4 linked regions of the Homo sapiens genome follow. The protein of the gene in region 2 interacts with the protein of the main gene of each other region in a pairwise test. Each region holds a gene or a part of one and is shown on either strand. Other genes may lie near its edges.

Region 1 (7,875 bases), on a different chromosome or scaffold from region 2:
TGGTCTACTGGTTAGGATTTCTGGGCTCGCAAATGCCCTATGGAAGAGGGTCTGAGAGAACAAGCAGCCATAATCTATTTCTGAAAAGCCTGCTTAAAATAAGAACGTCTTTGGATTCCTATTTCACTAGAGTATATGCCTGGAACACAGAAAGTATCCTGTTTGGATGTTCTACACTTCATTACAGGCCTAAGTGTCAAAGAGAAGGACTGACTTTAAAATAATCTTCCAGAAATTACCTCAGGTGTTAGTGAATATTATATCCAAGAGATTTAAGAATTCCTTCTTTTAAACCAAAGATTCCAGAGAAAGCCTTGGTACTTAATCTGGCCTGCTTTACCTCACAGAAATTTGCCTGGAATTAACTTAAAAAAATTTTTTTTCACCTAATTGGTATAACTGGGAACTATAACCATCTGCCCACTCCCAGCTCATCCAGGAGACATGCCAGCAACAGATTCCAATCAATTTGTAACTTCAGCTGAAATTGTAGCTAATTATTGCTAGATGTGTAAATGTATTCTACAAAAAAATTGTATCACAAAACTAAATTATCTTGAAAGCTTATTGCAAAAAAATAAGTCACTCTATGCCCATTAATTACAACTGCATTCCAGCTAATATTCACACATCAAGTTTAATCATCTTTATTTTTGTCAATAAAATTATTCAGGCAGGATGTCCATTCGCTGATATAGAGGTCTATTAAAGGAAATCTTCCTATTCTGATTGCTTTCTTTTGCCCATACCTTGGACTTTTACATTAAGAAATATAGCCTAGTTTGAAAATATTTTCATTTAATAAGCAAATAAGTAGAAGTAAAAATCTACCTAGGAAGGAGAACTTATTCTTGAGACAGGACCAGGTTTCAGCAGGTGGGAAAGTCTTATTTTGCTTGGCCCTTTCTTTAGGAACTGCACCAATTCCAAATCATCTCTTCCATGCAGGTCCTATTATTATTTTGCAGATAAGTGAACTGAGGCACACAGGTGTCAAGTCACTTACCCAGTGATCACCCAACTGGGAAGTGAAAACTGTCACCTTTGACAACCTGTTCCTAACTCTTGGATGCACCCACAACATGTGGGAGATTTGGAAAGCATCAACAAGGAGGTGAAGGAGAGTACTGACTGAACAGAGATGCTCAAAGCTGAAATATTATTTCAGAACCACAAAAATTAACTAGAAAAAAATAGAATCAACGGAGCTGATGTTTTAAACAAACACAATTAAAGACTAACAGTTCAAGCTATGTTTGAGTTTTATAACAGCATAAAACAAATGTGCTTCAACACTGATAATTTGAAAAATGACACATTAAAAATAATGTACAAAATACATCAGAGTACTTGCTTGCCTTCAGAATAATTTCAAAGGTTGTATGAAGTCATTTACATAGCTTTTTTTTTTTAGAGTCTCGCTCTGTCACCTAGGCTGGAGTGCAGTGGTACAATCACTGCTCACTGTAGCCTCGACCACTTGGGCTCAAGTCATCCTCCTGCCTCAGCCTCCCTAGTAGCTAGGACCACAAGCGTGGGCAACCACGCCCGGCTAATTTTTACATTACTTGTAGAGAGTGAGTCTCCCTATGTTGCTAGGCTGGTCCCGAACTCCTGGGCCCAAGCAATCCTGCCTCCACCTCTCAAAGTGCTGGGATAAGCAGCATGGGCCACTGCCTCCAGCCTTGTTAGCTTTCATACTTCTAATTATGTTAATAGTATACACTTGTAGTATAAAAAAATATAGTAATTAAAAACTTTACCAAACAGATTTTAAAACTCTAATATTTTAATAATCAGATACAAAGTATTATGTTACGTTTCAATTTGTAAGGTGCTAGTAAATAACAATGGAAAATGACATTTTAATATAGATTATGGCACTTAATTAATGTGTATTATTGTGTAATATTAAAGGTTGAGATGAGAATCAAGTATTCTAAAATGACATCAAAATGTTGACTCTAAAGAAAATAGAATATGAAATGTTTTCTGAAGAAATGTCTGAAGAAACATTTCATTTCCATGTTCTAGTTTTATTTAAAATTAATTTTTTGATGTAGAAATTATGCTTTACTAAATTAATTATAATGCTTTCACCATAAATCTAGCACAGATATTCATTAACTTCATCAGCAGACCCTTAGAGGAGAAAAATATAAAATGCATAACTCTAATAAACTCGGGGAAGGTATGACAAATTTTGCAAGGATAAAGAGACATTACAAAAAAGCCCGAGGTTTAAGTTTCCTAAGAGAATTGCACTGAGACCTTGAACTAGTGATCAGATTTCCTACAGCGTCCTGGAAAACCTGGTACTTTCGAAGTGAATTCTATTGTTCATTTCATCAGGTTTTCATGGTTTTTTTGTATTTTATAATTTATTTTAAATTTAGGGCTCCCAAGTGTTTGCCTCATTCCCCTATGTTGGCAGCACTGATAATCCGGCCTTCGTTTTTGTGTGAAATAGGCACAGACGGAGTCTGAGAGCAAAAAAAACCCCACACAAACAAAAACAAAATGTTTGCGCAAGGCTGAAAGCCGAGCGAGAGCCCAGCAAGTGTCTCTGTTGAAATTCTTTGGGGTTTGCAGGGACCAGCCGGGCCGAGGCAGCAAACTGCCTGTTCCCCACGCACCCCAGAAGGGTCCGCGTGCGAGGAAATACCAGCGACCTCCGGGGCTAGGGCTTCCGTGGCGCAGGGTCAGCGAGGGATGAACCCGGGAAGCCACTATGGGCCGCTGCTCCAGCCCCGGGAACGCAGAGCACCGCTGGCTAGCAGGCTCAAGCTTCGCCAGGGACACACCGACCCGGAAGTGCAGTCGCCCCCACCGCAAGTATTTCCGCTTCCCTCCGCAAGTCCCCGGCGCGGTCCGGCCCCCAGCGGCTGAGCAGCCCCCTCCCAGACTGCGCACGCACCTGTGTTCACTGCGCCGGCCTTTCAGCTGTTGGAGAGCGGAGACCAGGACCTGCTGGCGCGCAGTGGCGGACGGACAGTAGCCCTGGAGCCCGCGGGTCCTAAGGTCCCGCGCCGCGGCCGTCGCGTCCTGACCCAGATAGCGGAGGCGCCGGGGGAGGAGCCCGCGGCCGCTCGGCCCCCCGCTCCCGCCCCCTCTCCCTCTCGTGGTGGGTTCAACTCTACCGGGACTGGCGTTGGGTGCACCTTTTGCAAAATAAAATTGCACGTCGCGGGGCGCCTGGCTCGCGCCGGACCGTGTGTCTCGGCCGTCGCCTCCCTTCGAAGCCGGTCGGCACCTTTTCCCCCGCCTGGGCTCTGGGCCTCCGCGCTAGCCCCAGCGCGTTCCCTCTCGCGTTGCTGCCACTCCGCACGCCCACCGCCAGCTCGCTTCGTTCCGGCTCTCAAACCCACTCCCTCTCCCCTAGTTAAACCTTTTTCTGTGCCCTTTCTAGGCACAACCTTGCACTTTACTCCTCACGACTGAATTAAAGGCAGACGCCTTGCACTAATTACTGATATCTGCAGCCCCGTGTTCATAGCTTTATCTCACGTTTTCTTTTAATGAGCAATTTTGACAGCCTCTTCCTTCTCCCCGCCATTCCGAGTTGCCTTTAGATGAAAGCCGCTGTTTTTTCAGATGCCTGACATTTAAGGTTTTACCCAGCTTTCTGTGGTTTGTATAATGAAACTAATTCTGCTAAATACGCTCTTAAAAACTGGGCCGGGCGCGGTGGGTCACGCCTGTAATCCCAGCACTTTGGGAGGCTGAGGCAGGCGGATCACCTGAGGTCAGGAATTCGAGACCAGTATGGCCAACGTGGCGAAACCCCTGTCTCTACTAAAAATACAAAAAATTAGCCGGGCGTGGTGGTGGACGCCTGTAATCCCAGCTACTTGGGAGGATGAGGCAGGAGAATCGTTTGAACCCGGAGGCAGAGGTTGCAGTGAGGCGAGATCGCGCCACCGCACTCCAGCCTGGGTGATAGAGCGTCTCAAAAACAAAAACAAAACAGTACATACACTGCTTCTGTATTGTCCGCACCTTGAGTATTACTGCCTCAAGCTTAGGTTTGCATAACATTAATCTCTAAACTTCCCACCAATATATTGAGCAGAATTAAAAATGGGTACACTCTTTCTCAAAACAGCAACAGCAGACAACACCCATAAAGCCATGAAGAATCCAGAAGGCTTGTTTTGCAATCCATATACTACTGTTTACGGATAGGGATTCAGGGATTCTATAGGCTCTTTAAGATGATTTTTTGAGCTTCAGGCAAGCCGCATTGAAGAATAAGTAAGCCTGGCCATGGTCATTTTATTAAAAGTAATTTGTAGCAGGGCGCAGTGGCTCACGACTGTAAGCCCAGCACTTTGAGAGGCTGAGGCGGACGGATCACTTGAGGCCAGGAGTTCGTGACCAGCCTGGCCAATATGATGAAACACCATCTCTACTAAAAATACAAAAATTAGCCGAGTGTGGTGGCGCACTTCTGTAGTCCCAGCTGCTCGGGAGGTTAAGGCATGAGAATTGCTTAAACCTCAGAGGCAGAAGTTGCAGTGAGCCGAGATCGGGCCACTGCTCACCAGTCTGGGACAGAATGAGACTCTGTCTCAAAAAACAAGAGCAAAAACCTAAGTTGTATTTGGAAAAAGAGCAGATTAATCTTTAACCTCTCAGATTTGGAACTAGTAAAATATTACCTTCTACAAACCCACTTCACTCCTATTTATTATGGTTTGCAGCAATCTTGCAATATAATGCTAGCTTTATTTAACTAGAATACAATATGATATAAACCGATCATGCAAAACAATTTTCTCTTTTAACAAGATTTAGATACCAAAGAAACATGACTGTCTCTTCGCTAATACTTAAAAGGAGCTTTTCAGTATTTAAAACAAAATTTAAGCTTTTCCAGGAGCCCACTGAGTTGTTCACTGCTGCATCCCCAGCACATTGCACAGAAGAGGCTTTCAATAAAAATGTGACGTATGGGCTGTGAACAAGGCCTTACCAGTCTATTCCAAGAGGAAGATGGCAGCTGATACTGACTTGATCTTCAGGTTCAGGACATAGACTATGTCACACTTGCTCCTTTCCAATACATTTGTTTCTATTCCTTGATGAGTAAAAATTATCTGAAAGGTAGAAACTCAGGGACAGTGACAACCATTGACCTTGGCAAAGCTGTAACTAAATAGCAAAGACAGGCGCTATCTTTGCCAGGTACTGTTGCAGGGGTGACATAAAAAAGCAGAAATGATTCCCCTCCCCACTACTAGGAATGTCAGTCTAAAAGGAATATCTGAAGGAAAAACCAGAACATACTAAGAATCTCAGAGTTGCTGTTATTCATCAAACCAGTACGGCATGACAATCATTTGGGAGGAGTGGGTACAGACCCTTCACGATTTGCCCCAACCTACTTTTCCAGCTTTTCTCCGCTACTTCCACCAGACATCATTCTACACTTCAGCACTAGCTAAGCTACTGATCGTCTCTCCACAAGCTGTATCCTTTTTATCCTGTTCCTTGTGCCTGGAATATCCTGTTGCTTGCCACCCGTCCAAAACCAATTCAACCACTTCAACCTCTTTCCCTTGAGAAGCTACACACTCTCTCCTTCCCCATAAGAAGTATTCATCCATGCCCCATCAAAACTTATGGAAGGACCAGGAGTTTCAATGAATACAAAATGCCTCCCTGCTAGCTTACAGCAAACCTCTCTGGTGTACACTATATAATTACTGCTTGCCAGTGACTGTGTGTTTGTGAGGCTGTGAACATCTTCAAGGATGGTAGCATTTATCTTTGTATCTTGGGAACCTGGCATGGTGCACACCCTCTATATTAGATAACTATTTGAAAGTAGTATGTACATTTGAGGGAAAAGCATGAGGAAATGTATAGTCCTTCATTATAGTAATGTGAGATGGGAGTGTCAATTTTTTTTTTTTTTTAGGTTTTATTTGAGTGGTTTTATTTCCAGGAAGCAATTGAATGACAAAGTTAGTTTTAACCCTTTAACAGTTACCAATATGCTATATAGTTAACTATTCATTTTCTAGTTCCTTGTTGTTATTTCCAAATCTTATCAAACTTACAAGCTGAATTTCTTAATTTGTAAACTGAAGGCTGAGCTGCAGGTATAATTAGTACCACTATGAAATCCCCAACCCCCGCTTCAAAGAGCAGAATCAACCTTCATTTCCAGGCTGGTTTTAAGAAAGTATTTTAAGGAAAGGGTTAAGGAAATATTTTACTGCAAATAGCTGGGGAAAAACTTTTAAATTAAGAACACCCTAACCATTGAGAGAGAGGGATTTAGAGAGGGAGAAGCGCACAGGCAAAGAGCAGGGGCAGAGGAAGAAGTCCCCCAGGTGTAACCGAAGCTCTGAGTTCCCCGAATCATTTGTAAACGAGGAGGAGCAAAGGGCAGCAGCAACAGGTACAGCAGGAACATTTATTGAGTCTTCTACACAGTTTTCAAGCTTCGTTCTTTATATGAATTATCTTATTCCATTTTCCCAACAATCTAATGAAGTAAATAACATACAGGTGAGGAAACCAAGGCTTCAAGAGGTGAAGAAACTTGTCCCAGGCCACATAGTCAGTTTTAGAGACAAATATCAAACTTAACTTTGTCTGAGAGCCTTTTCTCTTAACCCAGCCCATCTTGGACCCCCAGACCCTGCCTTTGATAGAACACTTGAAGGGACTCTTCATAGCACCATTTACAAGAACATCATAGCCCTTCTAATGTGATATTACATCATTTGTATCCCCCACTTCAGTTATTTAGGGTTCAGCTTTCACTGCTTCTGTTAGAGGAGAAACTGAATTCTCAAATCTGATCATTTGCCCCATGGGGGGTTTTCTGCAGTTTACCACAACCTCTAATCCACAGAGTATAAAATTACTTTGTGTTTATGATATTCAGGTTAGGCTAGGAATAGAATTTGGGGAAAAGAGGAATATAATACTATGTCTGATGTAGTTTTAAAAAAATTAGGCAGTCTCTAGAACACAGGAAAATTACAAAAAAAATTTCTGAAAAGAAACTAACTTGGACTTTCTAAGGTAAAAATGTTTTATCTGAAAAAAGCATTAGGATAAGCTTATTAAATATTTCCATAGACTAAGTGATTAGTGCAATAAATTATTAATCACTTAAATCCAATAAAATGGTTGGCCTAATACTCCTATACTGAACAAATTAAAAATGGTATTTTAGGAAGATATGTATGAAAGAAAAATTAACAACGATATTTATGTTATGCTACTTAGCAGTTCAATGTTGAATCAATTTATTAAAAGTATACATACCTAATTAAGATATAGAATTCTTATTAGAAACTTTCTATTTCATTAGAAACATTAAGTTTTTGTTCCATGAAAAAAGTCATTTTCAAAAAGGCATGTACTAACCTTGCTCAGTGGTTTTCCGCAGTATTTCGGTGATGATTCAAGAAAAGAATGACGTTTCTTTAAAAATTGTGGAAGATTTTTTAAGTCACATTCCTCCACTGATTTTCCATGGCCTTTGTAAATAAAGCACAGCCTTGGATACAATCCAAAGTGGAACTTGACAGATTCAGAGGAAGAGTGGTTTTGCCCCTCCCTCTGCATTCTTTCTTCATCCTGGGAGATGATGTTCAGGGACACTGTTGACAGTATATACATCAACTTCACAAGCTAAGGTCAGTTTCACTGGCGCTAATTAAAAATAAAGGTGAATATTCATCATCATCAGACAAAATGTTGTTAACACGTGTACAAAAAGTTAAAATAACTGGATATGCTTAATTACATATAATAATTGGAAAAAAATTTCATTTTGGACTTGGGTGGTAAGTGGATTTTATACAATATTCTGCTGGGAAAAATTGGGGTTAGCAGTTTTCCAGACTTACT
Region 2 (7,329 bases):
GATCAGCCTTGAGTGCAGTGGCCCTGAACATTCACATGAATGGGCCAGATGACAAAAAAGAGAACATATTCAAAGTCAGCATTCATGTTAAGGGGTGGGGGCAGGTGTAGATAAATAACCAGCCAGAAAAGCAACCTTGGCAATTACATAAGTGATCAACACAAACAGGCAGACTTGTCTAGAAGAGATTTCATGTTTAGAAACAATAATGCACACAATCAGCAATGTAGCATTAATAAGAACGTGACATTGGGATGAAGAAATGCAACTTGTAGGAATTCCATAGTTCTAAACCTGCATTAACTGTATCCCTTTCCAAACTCCACAGCTAAAGATGGGAGGGAGAATATGGACAACATTCAAGGAAGAGCCACAGAAGTGATTGAACTGGGCTGGGACATGGGAATGAAAGACTTCTACAAAAAAGTTAAATGAATTAGTTTATTGAACTTGGAGATGGACACCCTTATAAGGGCAATAACAAACAAAAATAGAAATAGGTTTAAGTTATAACACACAAGAATAAAATTAGATGTAAAGACGACTTTCCTCAGTTTTAAGGTGGATAAGTGGGTTGTTAAATTATAACAGATTTCTCTAGGAGGGTCTGGTGTACTCCAGGCTCGCTGGGAGGCAGACCTGGATAATCTCTGAGTATATCTGTCCCCACCTGGCATTGTTGAGACCCTTCAGAGTACTTCTTTAGGTCCATGATTGAAAATTAAGAGGCAGCCAGTGCCTCCATTGTTATAAGGGCCATAAGGTTTGGTTATCTTTGATAAAGAGAAATGGAAACATATAACAGAGCTCTTCCTCAAGTCCTGCATTGGGAACATTAGCACACACCAGGACCTTTCCTATATGTAGACACAGTGCAGATTTGATCTGTGGTGCAGCCAAACTAAAACACAGGTCATGGCATTGTTTCCCCACTTTTGGTACAAACAAGCCCTTAATCAAGTCTCTAATCTAGGGACAGTAACATCGGCTATTTGAGTGCAGGCACCCTAGGTTGTTAATGTCTGTTTCCCAACACTATTCCATTCCAATATTTTTCTTTACCTAAAGTGGGATAATGATCATAAAAAAAAACACAATAATTTTCCTTACAACACTGCTGATAACTAATAATCACACAATTGCATGTAAGTTAATTCTTTAAATTTAATCAGTCATTTATAAAACTCCCCAATTAGTAAAAGTTGGCTTATTTTAACAGCCTTAAACATTGGCCACTATTTAAACAAGACATTCTAAAAAAAAAAGCAATCACATAATAGTTTATAGTCATTTACAAGTGGATGGTATACATTTAGATACAGAGGTAGAAGTTCACCTTTACAATGTTTCACTAATACACATATACCAAATTCAAGGCACAAAATAGTTTGCTTTACAAAAAAATACTGTAAAAATGTCATTTGCTGTTCTACAATGTGAATAAACCTTTCAAAAGAATCTTTACACCCTTCCATACATATGCCATAGAATAAGATTTCTTCCTCTCACTAATCATAGTTGGCACAAAAATGGGGACTTTTCAATGTAGAAGTTCCCATTTTTAAAAACTGTTCCTTTGCAGAGCTGCTATGTATTCTAGATAAGAGTCCATCCAAAGAAATGAAACACAGCAACTTCCTGAGGAAAGGGCACTTTCTGTATGCAGCAAAATTCATAGGTAGAAAATGTATGATCTTTTAGGATAATTAGGTCTCCAGACACTTAATGAAGTATATCAGAGATAAAATTAAAAATTCAAGGCTGGGTGCAGTGGCTCATGCCTGTAATCCCAGCACTTTGGGAGGCCGAGGCAGGTGGATCACAATGTCAAGAGATGGAGACCATCCTGACCAACATGGTGAAACCCCGTCTCTACTAAAAATACAAAAATTAGCTGGGCGTGGTGGCGCATGCCTGTAGTCCCAGCTACTTGGGAGGCTGAGACAGCAGAATCACTTGAAACTGGGAGGCAGAGATTGCAGTGAGCCGTGATTGTGCTACTGCACTCCAGCCTGGTGACAGAGCGAGACTCCATCAAAAAAAAAAAAAAAAAAATTCAACTAATACTTTAGTCATTGTGACTTTAAGAAAGAGACTTGGTCACCTTTACTGTAACACTCAGACATCATTTACTTCAGTTGATGGAGATTTCAAAATTCCTTTTCAAAAGAGCTAAACATACAAACACCATGAAAAAGTCACCTAGGCCTTGCAAAACGGAAACTTAGAAAACGTGAGAAAATACAGCACTATCAGTCCTTGAAATTGCGAAGATGTCAACTGGCTAGAGTTTAATAACAAGAATGAGTAAACTCTGGGAATTCTGAAAAATCACACACATGAAACATACAGTCTAGTTATCATTTCTAGACTTCCTGCTCATTAAAAAATAATGGTAACCTGAAGATGTCACACTGCTTCTCTACAGATTTGACTGGTTTCTGGGTTCTGCCTAAAAGGACCCTGTTGGCAACAACCTAAGTTCACTTGTACTGATCACATTTTCCAAGTACTCTAGTCGGTTAATTTACACTTTATTTTTTTAAAAAGTTGATTTAAAAAAGAAACAACACAAGTTTAGAATCCATAAAATGTCAGCAATGCTGATGTGCACTGGACTGAAACATCTTGATCATCTTCTGATAGAAGTAATATTCCATACAAAAAGATTCTTAGATTCCATTTTTTGCTTCATTATTGTTTGTGGCTTGCTTTCTTTGAGCAATAAAGGGGTACATACACTTGTCCGCTCCTAGGAACCGATACATGCACACAACTGCTTCAAATGGTAGGATGCTGAAAAAGGGAAGTCACAGCTGTTAGCAAACTTGAAGTTTCAATTAAGACATCGGGCAGGCATGGAGAGACCCAGTCAGTGAGGGAACCCCTCCCAGTTACCTCTTCATGAAGGTCACGATGTACATGAGGCGGGGAGTGCAGATCATGGGCTGGTCAGTGAGGATGGCCTTCATGGCCTGCTTCACACAGTAATCAGGCTTCAGAGGTGGCAGAAAAGGCTCAATTTCTTTCCTGAAAGTTATTTATTCAAAAACAAAATGAAAAATTAACACAATAGAAAAGACTGGAAATACATATCAAAACATTAACAGTGATGTTATCTGAGTGATGGGATTTTGGGTACATTTTGTTTTCTTCATAGTGCTTTTCTGTATTTTCCAAATTTTCCTGCTATGAACACATTTTATTGGCACAGTCTGGAGAACAAGTTGGGAAAAAAAAGCAAAATTGGTCTGCTTTTCCATAAGATGAAAAAGTCATGTTTTTAAGATGCCTTAAAAGTATTTCAAATTATTTTCCTATGTTTTGCTTTCAATAGAAAGAGGAGAAGGTGTTTGGCATAGCAAACACTAATCTCAAGCAAGATGCCAAGCTTTTAGTATTAGTTGTAGTCAAAATGAGGGTGTAAGCTTTCAAAGTGAAAGGAAGGCCACAGGTATCCACTTTCCAGGATGCCGGAAGAGGGAAAGCTAAGGTATATTCTCTAGGGGCCCCTGAAATGAAGGGTATATAGACATCCTACCTTCAGTTTGATTCACTGGGTTACATGTTGAAATGATAGTGTGCAATTTATTCCTTTCATTCTTCATTTTGCCACCATAGCTTTGGACCCCTGCACCTGCTGCTATGCTACACTGGAGGAAACAGAGCTCCGCAAGACCCTCAGCAACTGCTTCCCAAGTACATAAGAGGAAAACAAAACAAAACAAACCACCAACACACACACATGTTCACACAGACACACACATGTGTGGGATAAGAGGCAGAGCTAGAGTCCATTTTCCAGGTCAGACTTGGGACTCCAAGCCTGACTTTGGAGTGATTCAAATCACCTTCCACCTATTTTGCTGCTTGTTCAGTTCAGTACACGTTAAGAATGGCCCCCAACCAACAGGGAACTGGTTTGGTTATCTTCCTTTGCCTTTCAAACTCACCCAAGCAAAGATAAAAGTAAGCATGTCTTCACAAGCATCCTCTTAATGATTCACAGTTTTGTTTATTCTGCTGAGCTCAAGTCAGATGTAACTTGACATTTATATTCCCATATACCTCCTTTCTATGTGTGTGGGTATTTTATTTCATTTTTCAGTATATCTAAATGGTTCTTCTCATTCTGCCAGAGTGAATCTAGTTACATACGCTTGCTGCAAAAAGGAAGTTTCCAAATCTGGAGTGTAATATTCAATGGTCTTTTCAGAAGAAAGGCACGTTACTCTCTGTGACAGTAACATTGCTTCATATCCAGACCCAAGTCACATGAAGGAATTTTCTTCTAGAATCCTTATTTACCAATACCAATTTTAAAGAAACAAAATAACTCCAAAAGATGAGCTTCTAAGGAAAAGACTGGATACTTATGTTTTCTCTTTACAGAGAAGCCATTTCCTATCTAATGATTCTGGATTAATTTCTGCAAATTAGTATCAGTGTGTAGCACCAGTCTCTCCTTTGCAAATCTTATACACCAATTTTACAAACTTTACAAATCTTGACCAATAAAAGCCACAGATTGTCAAATGATAGTTAAAATACAAGGTTATGTTTGAAAGTCCAGTTCCACATATTCTCCCAACATATTCTTTTTATCAGTAATAATATAGGTTCTCACTGACCTGATTCGGCAGCCTCTGAACATGCCAGTGTCTACAAGATAAGGGCAAACCAAGGTTGTTTTAATTCCATCCTTTTCAGCAGCCTTTAGTTCATGGCTCAGGGATTCATGAAAACCCACAACTCCAAATTTACTGGCACAGTAATCCTGAGTTAAAGAGGGGAGAAAGCAGAAATACTAAGCATATGCCCCTATCTCCAACCAAACTAAAGCTTCCCTGGTCCTATTACCATGTTTAGATGTCTAATACATAAGGTTACAGGTGACTACACAAAGAAAAGGAAATCATTTTAAAAGACAGATACCTGGCTGGGCATAGTGGCTCATGCCTGTAATCCTAGCACTTTGGGAGGCCGAGGTGGCTGGATCACTTAAGGTCAGGAGCTCGAGACCAGCCTGGCCAAAATGGTGAAACCCCGCCTCTACTAAAAATACAAAAATTAGCTGGGCATGGTGGGCCTGTGCCTGTAGTCCCAGCTACTCAGGAGGCTGAGGCAGGAGAATTGCTTGAACCTGGGAGGTGGAGGTTGCAGTGAGCCAAGATCACACCACTGCACTCCAGCCTGGGTGACAGAGTGAGACTCTGTCTCAAAAAAAAAAAAACAAAAACAAAAACAAAAACAAAAACAAAAAAAAAACACAAACCAGATACCTGATGTGGTTCAGTGCAGAAATAATATTTTCAAAGCAACAGCAGAAACAGATGAATACTTTTTGTCACATCAACTAAGTATCATATTACTTTGGGGAAGTTACCATAAAGGATTCTATGAAAGCTCACAAGCTGAAGTTAAAATGGAGAGAGGTTCACTTTGAAGTGTCTGGAAAATTTACAAATGGTCTCTTGTTCAGTAAAGGAGAAAGAAAAACCAGTTTGTTTAAATTAATGCAAGAAGAATAAAGGCAAATCTAGCTTAGGCTATAAATTGTTATGATTTGACTTTCTTTGTAAGGCGAAGTTAAAATGAAAATGATAATCATGCCTTGTAATCTTAAACTAGAACTTAACCTAAAGGCACAGAATATAGAAAAAAAGTTATTGTCCATGGCCCAACTTCAGAAATGGAATCCCTTGATATAGGTGCTATTTAAATAATGTGTCCTTTTGCATATTTGCATGGAGTGATGTTTTCAGTTTTACAGGCATGCAGAGGACAAACAGGATAGAACAACATATATACTCATACTTTATAATCTGAATATCGTGAAGAACAGGGTTTGATGAAATCCAGTTCTACAATTCTACAAACTTACAATGCAGGATACCTGACCGCCTCATCTGATGGGCTAATTAATACAAGATAGCTCAGTTTTGGCAAGGTGACCACAACCGAATGTGAACCTCTGGCCTCATTCTTCTGTTCCCCACAGCTTTCCATGGTTCCATTCTTGGCCCTGTGCCTCCTGCCATCGTCAAGTGAAGCTGCTAATGAAAATGGGCACACTGAGGGCTGGCCCATCTACTTTTCTTGTCGCTGCTGCTTTGTCAAACTAGTGTAAGAGATTTTATGGCAGAAGAGGCAGAAGTCCATTCCCTTTCTTTGTTTTGTTTTAGAGACAGGGTCTTGCTCTATCTCCCAGGCTGAAGTGCAGTGGTGCCACCATAGCTCACTGCAGTCTTGAACACCTGGGCTCGCACGATTCTCCCACCTCAGCCTCTCAAGTAGCTAGGACTACAGGTGTGCGCCACCACACCTGACATAGAATTCCATTCCAGTGGCTGGCCCTGGGTTCCTGTGGAACATTCTACATGCAGCACACATGCAGAGTGCCTTCGTGCAGCTTTCATGAATGGAGGGGCAGCAGGTGCTCTCCTGGAGGTTCTGGTGTACTTATCACAGGATAAACAGATTGAACGAAAGAAATGCTATATATCTGACAAACCTCAACTCCGGCAGTACTGAACAATCCCAAGGAACTTGCAACTGTCACAATATGACCATGATTAATCTCCAGCATCGTAGGAAGAAAAGCCTTAGTGGTCTGAAACAAAGTAAGATTCAAGTTTTAGAACTGATTTCATGAATTTCATCTAAAACCCAGTCCAGGATCACAAAACAAACTTTTATTCACATGATGTTTTGTTTCCCAATTCCTTTAAAAATATTTTATATTTATCAAAAAGATCTTTTAAGTGTCTGGCTAACTTAGCACTGTATCATCGGCATGGCAGGCCTATTATAAGTCGTGACCAACAAGACTGTAACTTAAAAGCTTTTGGGGACAGTGTCTAGAGATAAAAAGAGAGCCATTGGCAGAAGCTTCTTAATTACCTTTCAAGTGACAGTTATCTGCTAATTTAAAGTACTCCCAAGCCAGGTATTTGTTTCTGCTCGTGACACTTCAATGCAGCTATCTCATGGTTTAGGAGGGACCACAGCCTACTACAAACATTGCCTTGTATTAATGTGTGCCTTACGGCGATGTCTACGTAGTAATAGACCTATCAATGAAGAGATACTCCAGCAGCATGCTCTGGGATCCCAAGGCTTATTACCAAAATGTACTAGCAGGAGACAAAGTATTTTAGGATGTAAAAAACAGGCTAAATTATAGAACTATTTTTGTGAAAAACATATCATAATGCCAACTATGCACTGACAAGAACGTGTATCATTCTGAACAGTCACATTCCAACATGGGTTTCACCGCAGGGACTCTGCCACAGATGCAAGTGACTGGCCACACAGTGAGGCAGA
Region 3 (7,329 bases), on a different chromosome or scaffold from region 2:
GGTGGGGCCAAGGGCAGCCAGGCTTGGGGAGGGGGCTGCTTCCCCCACAGGAATGGCCCGGGTGAGTTAGCTATGCTCCCAGTCTTTTATATAGGGGGCAAGAAGGACGCTGTAAAAATGTGGGTGGGAGGGAGGGAGATCCCCAGTGTCCCTGGACACCAGCCCAGGGCCAGCTGCCAGGTGTAGGAAAGGCTCGGGGTCAGAGGAGAAAAGGGAATGTTCCTCCCCTGAATGAGCTGTAGGTGAAAGGACTCCACTGGGCCTGGAGAATTGGGGAGCTGTGTCAGCCCTCTCTCTGATTCAGGTGTCATTGCTGGGTCCCCTGCACCTCCAGAGTTGATCCGAGCCATCATCAACAAGATAAATATGAAGGACCTGGTGGTGAGTGGTGACTGCGGCCCGGGCTGTGGGCAGGCCAGGCCTGGGATGACAGCAGATGGACAGACATGGGGATGAGTCCAGGCCAGATGTTCAAAGGAGACCCTCTCAGCCAGCCCTCCTTCCAGAAAGCAGATGTGAGAAAAGATAGTCTGACCTCATCAGCACCTGGTGGGTGAAGGAGATAGGTGGCAGGGGAGTAAATATAATACATACATACATTTATATTTATAGAAATCTCAGGAAGAAATTGCAGCATGGGAAGATGGACAGCAAAGCACCGATGTCCTGCTAGAACGTCCTGGCAGGTGGGGGCTGGCAGAGTTGGGGCATGGGCTTTAAAACCCTTTCTGGAAGCAAGGGGTGGGGCAAGGATCTGATGATTGTTTCCACGTGGCAGGGAAAGAGGAACAGAGGAAGGATGATCCTGGGAGGGTGGCCATCCTGATGACCAACCTGTTGTGGTTCTGATTGACTTGGGGGGGGGGTCTCAGCAACAGCTTCTCCAAGAGGAGCTGGAGGGTGGGGAAGGCATGAAGGCTGGGGAGAGGCTCAGCCTTCCTTCTCCCCAGGACACTGCTGGGTGGAGCTGGGTTGGTAGTGGAGTGCCCGAGGCCCCCTGCCAGGACGTGTCTAGGTGTAGGCAGCTCTGTGCATCAGCAGAGGCTGTGGGGAGAAGGTATGGGTGGAGGTGAGAAGGTCAGTAGTCTCTCCGGTGGAAGGCAGAGGCCAGTCACCAGGACTGGCTGGGTCAGAACCTGCAAAGAGGCAAAGATCGATGTCAGTACTCCAACAACACAGATGATGCTTGAAGAAAATGGTGGAAGTCCTGGGCAGGACCTTTTCCTCCCTTCAACAGGGGACCCAGTCGTCCCCTCCTCTCTCTGTAAAAATGGAGGGTCTGCCTGACCCTCCAGGGCCAGGGGGTATCCTGGAAGATACCAGCTCACTTGCTGGAATCACCAAAGAGGGACATAGGGGACCTGTTTACCTGGCCCCCACCTGTTTAATGGCGGCCAGCTTTCTTGGACCTCTTGGTGGGGAACTTGCAGCTGCGGAAGGCGTCCGTGTCACGGATGTGCTGGCCCTTGAACTTGGCAGGTGAGGCACAGGTGGCATCTGGGCGGGAGGCCTTGGCTTCCAGCCACCTGGAGAGACAGAAACTTGCTGGGGCTGGGGAAGAAGGTGGGAGTGCTGGGGGGAAGGGCAGTGAACTATGGGGCCAGGATTGACTTGGCCACAGGATAGTCTGAAGCTGTCATCTTCATTTTACAAATGGGGAAACTGAGGCTCCCAGGGTCCCATGCTTATTAGGTAGCAGATCTAGGATGCATGTCCAACATGTCTTAGTGCAGGGCTAATGTGCCTCTATCACATGAGGGTGGGCTCTGGGAGTGACATGGAAGTGTTCTTACCGCCGAAGGCCCCGGAGCTGGCAGGTACACTTCCAGGGGTTATTGGTAAGGGCGAGGGTCTCCAGGCTGTCGAAGGGGAAGTTGGAGGGTAGCTGGTTCAAGCGGTTGTTCTCCAAATGGACGTGTTTCAGCGTGGTTACACCCAGGAAGGCACCATCTGAGAACTGGGGAGCAAGGTGGGAGCAAGGTGGGAGCAAGGTGGTCATGAGTGAATGAGTAAGCACCCGAGTGCCAGAGGGGCAGGATCCTTCCCTGAACCTGAGCCATAGCACTTTGAGGAGTTTCCCAGTTTTCAAAGCAGTATGACCAAGTGATCTCAGATAATCCAATCTACACAACCCCCTTTGAGACAGATGGTGTTATTTTCTTTTTTTTTTTTTTTTCCTTTTTTTTTTTTTGAGATGGAGTCTCACTGTGTTGCCCAGGCTGGAGCACAGTGGCACGATCTCAGCTCACTGCAAGCTCCGCCTCCCGGGTTCACGCCATTCTCCGGCCTCAGCCTCCTGAGTAGCTGGGACTACAAGTGCCCGCCACCATGCCCGGCTAATTTTTTTGTATTTTTTTAGTAGAGACGCAGTTTCACCATGTTAGCCAGGATGGTCTCGATCTCCTGACCTCGTGATCTACCCGCCTCAGCCTCCCAAAGTGCTGGGATTACAGGCGTGAGCCACCACGCCCAGCCAGGTGGTGTTATTTTCAATATGCAAATGGGGAAACGGAAAAAGCGCAGTCCTTTGCCCTGGGTCACAGCAGTGGGTAAACAGTAGCCACAGGACCACACCCAGCTCCTCTTCCCCTGGCACCACAATCCCTGCACAAACACTGGGACTGTGGGGCTGCCAGAGTTTGGCCCCAGCAATCCAAACTGGTACACGGTGAACTTGGTCTGTGCTTGGTGGAGTGGGCAGTGGGCCCAGGCTCCCCACAGTCCCAGGGTCCCAGGACTTCCCTCAGCTCTGTCCTCACTGCTCCCCCACTGCCAGCCAGACGCTATTTGTGAAGCCACCTTGGTGGAGCCTTTGGCCAGGTTGGACGGCTCCAGAGGAAATGTTCTATTGGTGCCCACACCTTTGCCCAGGCGCCACAATTCCTGTCTGGCCTCCCCTGCCCCAAACCAGCCCCTAATTCGCTGCTCTGCTGCCCACTGAAAGACCACTCTGGCACTGGTGGGCCACAGGGGACTCCAACTTCAGCTGGGGAGAGGCAGGGCTGAAGAAGGGCAGGCTTGAGCAGGCTCCTTCCACCCAGACAAAGGTTGGCTGCTGCCCAAGTGAGATTCTGCCCACATCTCCACACCCGCACCCTTTCCTGTGGCCCACATTGAGGTATGAAGGTCTCCAGTAACCAGACTCTCCTCTACCTTGTTGGTTCCCCACCCAAACCTCCTGGCTGAAGCCCCTGTACCAGGGTGATTTTTCCAGTCCCAGAGAAGGGATTCTGCTCTGATCCAAGGTAGCCCCACCTGGCCAGACACTGGGCACCCCAGGGGAGAAAGGAATGAGTGAGGATGCAGACAGGAGATGGGTCTAGTGACGGAGGAGGGCAAAGGGCAGTTAGCAGTCTGGAGACAGTGAGTCACGCCAGTCTTCTCTGTGGAGAGACACCTGGGGTCTTGGGCCAAGGATTGACAATAGTGGTCTTGCCTTTGCCCCTTCACGGAGCCCATGGGCACGATGCTTGCATCCTGGGGGAGCCCTTGGTCCCACGCCTACTGAGCTGCAATGGACTTGAGAATGCAGTGAATTGTGTCTGTGTGGATTGGGCAGGGCCATCCACCAGGGCCTCTATGGGGCATGGAGAATGTCTTCCTCAGGCATTTGCTTCCCCTCACTCCCCAGTCCCCCACTCCCCCTTAGCACACATGCACAGCCCCCACCAGGAACAGGGTCTCTTTGTGGGCCTGATCTGCCCAGCTCCTCTGGAAGGCTCCTCAATAAACAAACCTTCCTTTATGGGGTGGTAGGTTTACTGGAGACGGGAAAAACAGCAGAGGAGGGGTGGAAGGCCCAACAGGAAGAGGTGGCTGCTGCTCACAGTTGGGGGTTTGGAAGCACTGGAGATGGCCCTAGGGGGCCTTTTGTGGGGCCAGGGCAGTCCCACTCCTTTTATATGTAAGAATCCTAGGAGGGCAGTGGTCGAGACTGGCAGCAGACAGGGATTAGGGTAGGGATGTGACAAGGCGAGGAAGGGAGGTGGCAGAGCTGCTCACCTTGGAGATAGCCAGAGGGACAGGGAACCTGGGGACGGGGGATGGTGCCAGCTGTGGCCCTGGCTCCTGGGGCCTCCAGGAAGGGAAGAAGGAACCAGGGCAGAGCCCACAGCCAGGAGCTCACCTTCTCCAGGTTGGTGTTGTCCAGCCAGAGGGTCTCCAGGTATCTGCCAAAGGACTGGAAGGCATTGTCCGGGATGCTTTTCAGGGGGTTGTGGGACAGCTTCAGCTCCTCCACCACCCGTAGCTTGCTCAGGGCAGCTGAGGGGTAGCTGGACAGCTGGTTCCTGTCCACGTGGAATTTGGCGAGGTTCTCCACGTCGTCCAGGGCCCCGGGCTGCAGGGAGCTCAACGCGTTTTCCGACAGGTAGAGCCAGCGCAGGTCCTTGGCTCCCTGGAAGGCGCCTGCGCGCAGCTCACGGATCTTGTTGTTGTTGAGCTGCAAGATGAAGAGGTTGACCAGCGGGGAGAGCAACCCCCGGGGCAGCTCAGTGACCTTGTTGTGGTCCAGGTAGAGGTAGGTCAGCTCGGTCAGGTCGTCGAAGGCACCTGCGCGCAGCACGCGGATGTCGTTATGGGACAGGTACAAGTAGATAAGTTGCTTGAGGCCGCGGAAGGCACCGGCGGCCACCTCGCGGATCTGGCAGTGCTGCAGGTGCAATGACACGAGGTTCGGCATGGCCCGGAACGAATTGGCAGCCAGCACCGGGAAGTTGTTGCGCTGTAGGTTGAGCAGCTTGGTCTTCTCTGACACCTTGGGGATCTTCTGCAGCCCCACCTTGTCGCAGATGACGTGCTGCAGGTCGCTGTGGCAGTGGCAGTTCTGGGGGCAGGCGGCCAGCGCCGGCAGCAGACCAGCCAGGAGGCCGAGGCTGAGCAAGAGCATTGGGCGGACCATGGCTGGGACGCCTGGGGCCGGGGCTGGGGGCAGCAGCGGCGGCGGGGCGCGGGCAGCGGCGAGTCCTAGGCGCTCGGGTCTGCCGCCCTCTTTATACGGTGGCCCTGACCGCAGCCGGCAGCCGAGCCAGCTCCTACGTGGAGCATCGAGGCCACTGGGCTTAACTCGCTCGCGCCCAGAGATGCGCCCCCGCCCTCCACGGGGAAGGGGGCGGGGCCGTTCCCCCAGCCGGCTACCGTGCATGAGGGGGTGGGACCGTGGCCCCCGAGCCCCGAGCCCTGAGCCCCGGCTGTAGCCCCCCGCTCTCCTATGGTGCTCCTCTGCCTACCGCCTTTCCCGGGGCTTTTCTGGGAAGGGGGAATAGTTATGTCTGGAGCCCCGAGTTTACATCGGAGAGAGGGAGGCGTTCCCTCAACTTATTTGTTTGCTCAGGTTTGAGCCTCCACGCCGCGCCATCCACACACGCTCGGCCGGGTGCCCTGGATGCGAGGCGGGAGGAAGCGGGGCCGGACAGCTGGATGCGTCTCCCTGCGGTGGGCCAGCTGCCTGCGCTTTAAAGGGGCGCTTGTGCGGCGCCTGCCGAGCGTGAGAGCCGCCCCGGCGTCGGTCTCCCACTTCAGACTCGACGCGCCGAAGCTGGCCCTGGGTAGACCCGAGCTCCTTCCCCACCCTCGGGCGCGCCCCCACCCCTCTCTTCCAACCCCGCTTGCGTTTCTGTCGCCGGCGCCCTCATCCCCTTTTTCCACCGCTGAAGGCTAAGCAGAGAAGTGGGAAGTGGGGGAGAGTGGCCCACAGGAATGGCAAACACACCTGGAAACCACAGGCCACAAGCACAGTCGCACCATCCCCCCTCCTTCATCGCCCCGAAATATCTCCATCCCTCATCCCCAACCCTAGTGGTCAGGACCCGCCCCTGAGGGGTCTCAGGGTGGCGGCTGAGTGGCGCCGAGGTGTACTTGGCAGATGCCACATTCGGGCGGTGGCCCCAGGACTGTGAGGAGGGGTGCGGGAGGGGGTGGGGCAGGTCGAGGGACCAGCCCTGGACGGCTCTGGCTGCCAGACCCTAAGTTCTGTGGGCAGTCCCGCCCCAGCCCGCCAGATTTCTGTGTGCCCACTTGCCAGCCACGATGTCCGGATTCCTGTGGAAAGGGGAGGGTGAGCAGGCAGGGTCACAGCTCTGGCCTCAGGGTGAGCTCCAAGCTGCCTGGCACAGGATATTGTCTGTGATGAGGGGTGGAAGGAGAAACCAGAACCCACATTGAACCAAACCCCAGCCGTGCCAGAGCCAGAGCAGCTGATATGGGGGAAGCTTGGTGCAGGGAGGAGGATGGATGAGATCTGGTATCCGTTGATTAAAGGGGACCTAGGATACGGGGTAACTAGCCTCTCTTCCCTTACCCAGTACCCTCGTGTTGGGGCCTGGTTTCCAGGGCCTGCCCTTTTCCCAAACCTCTCTGCCCCTTGCCTCTAGGATAGGAGGGTCATACTTGGCCTAGACCATTCCTTGATGGTATTTAGGCTTCTCCAAGGCTGGCTTCTGGTTTTTCTGTTGCTCAGGCTTTCCAACCACTGGAAATGGGGGAGGTGGGGTGGGGGTACCACTGGTTTTTAAAATCACTGCTTAGGTTGTTTTTTTATTTTGATGGAAATAAATTCACGGGAAACTCTCCAGAGCTTGGGGGACGCCTGCCCCAAGGCCAGGCACTTGTTCAGGGTTTGCAGAATGCGGGGGTGGGGTTGTGTCTGTGCCACTCCTAGCTGGGCCAAGGCAGGCTGGCTTTCTCATCAAGTTTATGGGGCCTTCAGCTTGGAAGGGAGGAGCCGGGGATGTGGCCTGAAATCAGGAAGGTGGGGTTAAGGCAGCCAGGGGATGGGGGGAGAAGTGTGGGGTGTTGGTAATACCGGAGCCACAGGCACAGACAGGTGGCTGCTCCAGGGAAACGGGGCACTGAGAGAGCTCCAGCTGGAAGAGAATGGTGTCCCTGCTCTCAATTTTCTTTCAGATCTGGGGCCCTGCAGAGATCTAGTCTGCTCACTCCCAGCACCTCTGCCTCCTGACCCCAGGCCCCTACCAATGATGTCTCTGTTTCCACCATTCGGCTGCCCTCCACTTTCCCTTTTCTTTTATGAATTCCTTCCCATTTCCTCAGATAGCTCACCTGATCCCTCTGCACGTGCTGAGCCCTCTTCAAACACCCTTTCTGGACCCTCTAGGTTGCTTATGGAACCACAGAGAACAGTCCCGTGACATTCGCGCACTTCCCTGAGGACACTGTGGAGCAGAAGGCAGAAAGCGTGGGCAGAATTATGCCTCACACGGAGGTGAGCCCCTGACCAAGACTCCAAAGTCCCACCTCCCGTCACCCAGCTGGGGTGCACCCAGCTGGGACATCGGTTGCTTTCAGTGAGAGAGTCAAATGGCTCACTCA
Region 4 (7,329 bases), on a different chromosome or scaffold from region 2:
GATGTTTGAAACTTGAGCCCATGAATTTTTGGCCTTCTTTACGCTTTTAGCACTTGGAATGTCATTAGGTAGCTATTTCACTTAGTATCTTCATCCAGATATTTCAGAATGGATTTTCTCTTCCTGCTGTTTCATTGGTATGTGAAATTGCAGGTCGGTTTATTCAAAGGTTTGGAATAAAAAGGTTTCTCTGAACTCTCCTTTCATTGCCAAACATTTTGCTCCAAATCAGGCTTGTTTTAACTGAATTAAGAGGATGACTTAATAAGAAGCTTCTGTGCACAGCAGAGGGTCATGGTAATCGTTCTATAGGGAACAACACAATACGGTCACAAGTCTGCAAAACGTGCCAGAAATGATAGTCATGCCTCATCCAGGCAAGTAAATGCATCCTTCCTGGAAGCAGTCAAGGAGTTGTTTTCTCCGAGTATTGTTATCAACAGTTTGGGGTTGGACTTTACCCTCCTGCGGCCACTTACGTTGTAAAGACGATGAAGCAAATTATTCAAAGCAAATCTATATTTCTTTTTCCTTCCAGAGGGAAAATGATTCCATCTGATCTTGAAAGAAGGATTCTTGAAGCCAAACAGAAAGTAAGTTTCTGCCGGGAGCTTTATCCAGCCCATATTTCTATTTCCATCCACCGGAGAACAAAATGTGTTTTGGTTTTATTTTAAAAAGAGGATCCAAGCCTCAATCTCCCAGGTTTAATGAGAACATAGAATTCTGCATCCAGTCACTATTTATTTCTCTGGGTTATAGGCTCTGCTTTAGAAAAGTTTAAATTGCTGAATAAATATTATATACAGAGATACAGTGAGCGTTTCCAAAGCATTTGTCTTCCTAGGTACTGAGGGTTGGCATGAAACACCCACACATTTGAAAGAATATTTTCAGAGGCGGGGAAATAGCAGAATGCTAATGCAGTATGTGAGAGACCCTGGTGCAGTTCTTCAAAAGGGGCCAGTTTTTCCCGTGTAGGTGCATGCTGTTAGCATTGGCTCTCCAGACGTCTTATTTTGCAGGAAGCAATTTAGAACTCTTTTCAGAAGTAACAAGTTCTGAATGCCTGCCCAAGATTCCCAAAGCTCTAGAAAGTCATTTACAACCTGGGATGGCTCACAAATCAGAGAATTTGTTTCTAGAATTCTTTGTTTACCATTTGGTAGATATAACCTACAGTTTCTGATTTAATAACATACACATGCATTTTATCATTAGGAACTCAGAAATAATGATTTACGTTCATATGCCCTTTTTCGTTTGGTTTTGTTTTACTAAGTGGCAGGCAGCAGGAGAAGGTTTCCCTCCTTGTGCAAGTACTAGAACTACTTCTAGTAACATCAACTAGAAGATTAAACCTTTGCTGCCACCTAAAGACTGACACCATAACATCACGTTCTATAGACAGGACAGAGTCCTTATGGAATGAGGGACTATGGCGATCCTGTTTGTGGCATTCTCCTGCCTTCTTCCAGCCCGTTACTTCAATCAGTTTTCATTTAGCCATGGCCAGAGAGACTGAGGACTAGTTAGACGGATAAAAGTCATGGCGTATTATTTTAGCCGCTCCGTGCTGAAACGTGAAATAAATTATCTGGGCATTTTCCAAATAGGAATAATGGGCTGGTCAGAGCTACTTCTCTTCATTCTCCTGCCTACTCACTCTAGGGGATTTATGAAGTTCAGAGGCCTCGTTGTGAATAAGGAACACTTGAAAGTGAGCAAAGGGGGTTAAAAGGGCCAGAAAGTCTACCGGGAATATATACATGTCTCGGGGACGTCCCTGACAGCCTCTGGGTTCACTACAGCCTCTTCTGAGAATCAGAATGTCTGTTCTTTTAAGACACAGTCAGGTCCAACAGCATAGCCTAGAGAACTCAGATTCCAGAGAGTGAACATCAATTTGTCCCAGACCCCGGGGTGTCAGTAACTCTGCTGCTGCTTCCTCAAATTCAGACGTGTCTGTTAGGGAGAGAATTTCCATTGCTTTGAATCAGCTTTTTAAAAGAACCCTTGACTCTGTTTTCCATGATTTGGGGCTTTCTCGTTCGCACAGGGGTTTGTTCCTTTCCTCGTGAGTGCCACAGCTGGAACCACCGTGTACGGAGCATTTGACCCCCTCTTAGCTGTCGCTGACATTTGCAAAAAGTATAAGATCTGGATGCATGTGGATGTAAGTATCCCTTAGGGACTGGCCACTAAAACGTCCTTGCACGTTTTTCATGTGGGACACACAAAGGAAATTTGTTTTCTCTTTTTTTAACTTGGTCAGCTTATTTTCAGAGTGGTGATATTAAAGCTTTTAAAGCTGGATGAAGCAAATTAGCACACAACTCACACAGTACACACCGTGCACCAGAAGCATCCCAAGGCTGATTATACCTTAATGTCCCCAACATGGTAATATTTGTATTTCTATGATCAGTACCCAAGCTGACCACTTTGTTCTCAATTCATCGAGCCATTGCATCCATGGAGGAATACAACCTACGCACACAGTCCTGCTGTTCCTCACTTACCAGAATGGTCAGAAGAGTAAAGAGGAGTTGCATTTATGTAGGAAACCCAGAGAATTAAAAACAAACAAAAGCAAAAAACTGAAGCTCAAGTTAGATATTCCTGTATTTAGAGAGGAAAATAGGCTTGACAACTTCCTGGGAAATAAGGACCACCAAAGTTCCAATTTCGTAGCTTGGTCAGCTAAGAAGATAGATTATATTTGAAACGTTTTGACTTCAGGCCTTGTCACACTAAAAAATAATGAAGGTGTTCCCTCCAGAACATTTTCCAATGAAAAAAAATGTGTTAAGTTTTAGAAGGACCGAAGGGATTTAAGTTTAGATTAGTATTACTCAAAGTGTGGTTTGACGATTAGCTACCACCTGCAAACTGTTAATGATCCATATGAGATAAAGAGTTTGTGCCAAACCATCATCAGTCACAAACCATCGCTAATCACAAACCATCACAAACTAAGCGCAATGCTTGGCTCAGCTGATAATTTTTTCATTGCAAGACTTTCTCAGTGAAGGAACGCATAAGTTGATGTTCATTCGAGTGCAAGATCCTTATGTTGTCATGGGCCAGCACTGGGTCTAAGCCAGGGCTATAACAATGATCTAGCCCTGGCTTAGATCATTTTGGCTTTATAATAATTATTCAGACCAAATTAATGCTCTTTTTTTTTTCTTTTTGAGACAGAGTCTTGCTCTGTCGCCCAGGCAGGAGTGCAGTGGCGTGATCTTAGCTCACCGCAACCTCCGCCTCCAGGGTTCAAGCAATTCTCCTGCCTCAGCTTCCTGAGTAGCTGGGATTACAGACGTGCGCACCCATGCCCAGCTAATTTTTGCAATTTTAGTAGAGATGGGATTTCTCCATATTGGCCAGGCTGCTCTCGAACTCCTGACCTCAGGTGATCCACCTGCCTTGGCCTCCCAAAATGCTGGGATTACAGGCAGGAGCCACCACACCTGGCCTCATTAATGTTCTTTTCTTTAGGGGCAGAAAATTTCCACAGGCTTAGCTGGGTGCATTTCCATTATTCCAGAGTATTCCTGCAGAGCAATCACCAATGTTCTTTATCCTCCCTGATTCACAGTGTGAGTCGTTCATTAGGCTACCAGAGCCCCTTTCATTTTACACATGAAGACACTGAGAAAAGACTGAACTATCCGATATCATTAGTGACCTGGGCCTCAGGACTGGAAATCCTGGTAGACCTTGCTGGCTGATTCAGGAAGAGGATTACCCGGCAACTTCAAAAATGAGAATGTCTGTGTGTCCTGAGCCAGCAGAAGCTATGGGTTGTTCCTCTGGGCCTCCTACTTAAATTAGAACTAGGGAATCTTTTAACCAGTTTTATTAGCTTTTCTTTGAAACATACCAAGTTTACCACTTACTCTTATTAGCTTTAACATTCATACATTCTATAAAGTAGAAAGAATCTTAAAATAGTACACGTTTGGAAAATCATAATTTTTCAAAGTGCAAAAGAACTGGGCCAGGTGCAGTGTCTCACGCCTGTAATCCCAGCACTTTGGGAGGCTGAGGCAGGTGGATTACCTGAAGTCAGAAGTTCGAGACCAGCCTGGCCAGCATGGTGAAACCTCGTCTCTACTAAAAATACAAAAATTAGCCAGGCATGGTGGTGGGTGCCTGTAATCCCAGCTACTTGGGAGGCTGAGGCAGGAGAATTGCTTGAACCCAGGAGGCAGAGGTTGCAGTGAGCCAAGATCTCACCATTGCACTCCAGCCTGGGCAACAAGAGCAAAACTCTGTCTCAGAAACAAAACAAAACAAAAAGAGGGCTGAACTTACAACAAAAGGTGGGGGGAAGTGATTATATCATAAAAGAATTTTATAATCCATTTAAAATTATCCTAGAATTATTTGTACACACAGAGGAAAGAAAGTTAATATTTCCAAATGAATCTCCATCTTGGCATTCTATTTTTAAAGGAGATTACTACACCAATTCAAATCTTCAACCTTGATCAAGTACAAATTGTTAAGACGTGTTCTAACTGCTCAGCTAATTAACTGGTATGAATCTTCCCTGCTTGTGAATTTTGGACACAGAAATTATCCAAAATCACACATCAGTGAAATAGAGTTATGAAGCCACTTCTTATTTCTGGAATCATTTAGACTTGTCAAAAGAGTTTTCCCTGCAACTTGGAAGCTGTTTAATGGCCCTCCTGCCCATCTTCTCTGCCTTACACTGTGGGGACCACAGGGTTTCGTATTCTGAGAACATGACTTCATGAGGACTAATGGTGCTGGTGATAGGTTTGGGAGAGGGTCTTTCTCTCTCTTCTACGGACCAGGAGCTATGCCTCCAAGGTGGCTCCTTACACCCATATAAATGTGGGATGGAATCTGAGACCTTAGAAGGGCCCTTCGGTGTAAACTCTGAAGGTTAGTGCCAGAAGGAGGTGGTCAACTTCCTAAGTGGCCTGGGGTCAAGATCATTTTCACCTAGAAAGACACCAGACTATAGAAATCTAGGCAATGACAAACTGCTACCATTTTCCTCATATGATTTTTTTTCAGGCAGCTTGGGGTGGGGGATTACTGATGTCCCGAAAACACAAGTGGAAACTGAGTGGCGTGGAGAGGTATGTTGCATTTTTCTTATTAACAACATAAAGTGTTAAAAGCTAACTGTGAAACACAAATTACAGTCAATTTCCAGGAACTTTTGGAATACTGAGTGAACTCACTCTATTCAGTGCTTGTGTTCCTTGCCTTATGTGGTATTACACTCATGAATGTGGGTAAACAACAGAAAAATCAAATATGTAAATATTATGTGTAAACAACAGAAAAATCAGAATACACATCAAGCGACCCAGGTAGAATCTCTTTCAGACATAGAGATTCCTGTCTAGGGTCTATTCCTGGGATCTCTGAACCAACCACAAAAATTGTTTAAAACCTACAGGCAGCCCACGTTTTACTAGGGAGAAGATTTATAGCTTTCATGTTTCATAAAAGGATAATATCCACTGCTTAAAAAAAATAATAATTTTTCAAAGCAAATAAGCACCTTGTAACTTATCAATGTTGAAAGTTTGGGTTTGGGGTCTAAGATGGCCAGTTCACTTAAAGTGAAACATACTAGCAATAGCCTCATCTCATGTTTCATTCCCGTAATAACCTTTCTCTGACACAGCTCCGACTGATGCTGCAAAGCACCTTTTATTTAGAGCCTACGCAGAAGACTGTTGAGAAAAGCTGAAAAACACAAAGGCAGTGATATCTGATTGGCATAAAGCACATTCAGGTCCAAAGAAAAGAGAACAACAGAATGCAAAATACAGGCTCTGGTTCTGAACCACATGCAAGGGGAGCCCAGTTCTCTCATCACAACATGGCAGGTCAGACACAGTGGTGAGCTCTGGCACTCCAAGTGACCAAGAAAGCCTGAATTCATCAGAGGCTGCCAAATGCCCACCATCCCCTGCCAAGTCGCCAGATGCTGCCCAGCAAAAGCGTCACACTGGCTCTGCCACTAGATATCTTGGCACAGTTTCTGTTCCAGGACAAGGAGAGACGCTGATGGAGCACAGAGGCACTTGTGAGCCCTGGGCATGTGGGAGGCCCAGGCCAGAGTGGCTGTGCAGAGGGTGCGATCTGACACCCAGGCCCAAAATACACAGAGAACCCGTGAGTGTGGAAAGAGAGGGGTATGGTTACTGGGCTGGAGTCAAGAGCATCCCACCAAATTAATGGAAAGAAGGCAAAAAAGAGTTGGGATACACCAGCTAAGGCCCATGTCAGAAGGGTCACTGTCCCTGAGTCTGATGGCTGGGGTCAGAGCCTGGCCTGAGCACAGCGGTGTTAAGGCACCTGGAGCCACCCAAGCTCTGATTGCAGGGCCCCATTTAGATGCCAGTGGATGAGGGCAGGTGTGTCTCCCTCCCAGGGTCAGCCAGTGCCAGGCCTCTGCTCTTGGACCCTTGGGGCTTCTCTCAGGCCTAATCCCTTTCCATCTTGAAGATCTGCAAGAAAGCAGAAGCTTAAGGAAGAGGCAATGAAGTAAACAGGGAGAGACAATAAAAGAGAGAGAGAGAACAACTTGGAAGGTGCCTGCTCACATGATCAGAACAATAATTAAATTCATGTGCTTTCAAGAGAGGTGGCCTATGTACAGTACTTTCTCTTCTGTGAGTTTCTGACTGGCACAAAAAGTCTGTTACTTTACCTTTGATGCCACTTGCAACTGTAAGTGCTGAAAGTCCTGGCACATCCTCCACTTAAAAACTCACTAAATTACCTACCCTGAGCCTTAGAAAAATAAACACCCACACGATTCTGTACCAAAGACTATTATTTGAGAGCAAAGCTTAGAACGTTCATCAGGGAACACAGAGTTTCCTCTTATTGCCGCAATTCTTGAAACTGTACTGTAACTAAACTTTTCAAATGGAATAACCATATATGAAGTCCTAAAAATGAGGGGGCTGCTGGTGTTCCACTCTGAGCAGAATCCCCTTTAGCCACCCATTTAACTGAGGATACCCCTCTCTCACTGACTTATTAGCAAAAGGCATACTTTCTAAGTGAATACAGTTGGAAGACCAGTGGAAACCACATAATGTGTATGGCCACAAGTTTAGGAAAGAAATGTGTCTCACTTAGGGAATGACATTTTTCCAAGCTCCGCAAACCAAAGTTTAGAACTCACCCTAAAAGTAGAAGAAATCCGTAGTCAATTCTTGTCCCCAAATCCAGAGGATCCTTAGTAGTCACAGAGGATCCTGAATGCCATTCTCATACAAAATGGCACAAGGGGGCCGGGCACGGTGCTTGTAATCCCAGGAC

What was found.
Region 1: the proteins of RDH10 (region 2) and RMDN2 interact in binary tests that used the Homo sapiens proteins (3 or more experiments, as listed by UniProt).
Region 3: the proteins of RDH10 (region 2) and ACSF2 interact in binary tests that used the Homo sapiens proteins (3 or more experiments, as listed by UniProt).
Region 4: the proteins of RDH10 (region 2) and GAD2 interact in binary tests that used the Homo sapiens proteins (3 or more experiments, as listed by UniProt).

Annotation. Positions count from the first base shown.
Region 1 is NC_000002.12:37,920,468-37,928,342, reverse strand, and holds the start of RMDN2 (regulator of microtubule dynamics protein 2), read right to left. Parts: upstream 3,057-7,875; 5' UTR 2,918-3,056; intron 2,813-2,917; exon of another isoform or gene 2,637-2,812; intron 1-2,636.
Region 2 is NC_000008.11:73,318,380-73,325,708, reverse strand, and holds the end of RDH10 (retinol dehydrogenase 10), read right to left. Parts: intron 6,614-7,329; coding exon 6,515-6,613; intron 4,778-6,514; coding exon 4,632-4,777; intron 3,970-4,631; exon of another isoform or gene 3,622-3,969; intron 3,031-3,621; coding exon 2,899-3,030; intron 2,797-2,898; coding exon 2,673-2,796; 3' UTR 428-2,672; downstream 1-427. UniProt on the Homo sapiens protein: Retinol dehydrogenase with a clear preference for NADP. Converts all-trans-retinol to all-trans-retinal. Has no detectable activity towards 11-cis-retinol, 9-cis-retinol and 13-cis-retinol.
Region 3 is NC_000017.11:50,463,914-50,471,242, forward strand, and holds part of ACSF2 (medium-chain acyl-CoA ligase ACSF2, mitochondrial isoform 2 precursor), read left to right. Parts: intron 1-304; coding exon 305-381; intron 382-582; exon of another isoform or gene 583-612; coding exon of another isoform or gene 613-686; exon of another isoform or gene 687-1,384; coding exon of another isoform or gene 1,385-1,526; intron 1,527-1,793; coding exon of another isoform or gene 1,794-1,957; intron 1,958-4,126; coding exon of another isoform or gene 4,127-4,900; exon of another isoform or gene 4,901-4,967; intron 4,968-7,114; coding exon 7,115-7,222; intron 7,223-7,329. Other genes in the region: CHAD (chondroadherin precursor), read right to left, coding at 1,385-1,526, 1,794-1,957, 4,127-4,900. UniProt on the Homo sapiens protein: Acyl-CoA synthases catalyze the initial reaction in fatty acid metabolism, by forming a thioester with CoA. Has some preference toward medium-chain substrates. Plays a role in adipocyte differentiation.
Region 4 is NC_000010.11:26,268,581-26,275,909, forward strand, and holds part of GAD2 (glutamate decarboxylase 2), read left to right. Parts: intron 1-538; coding exon 539-593; intron 594-2,059; coding exon 2,060-2,176; intron 2,177-5,055; coding exon 5,056-5,120; intron 5,121-7,329. UniProt on the Homo sapiens protein: Catalyzes the production of GABA.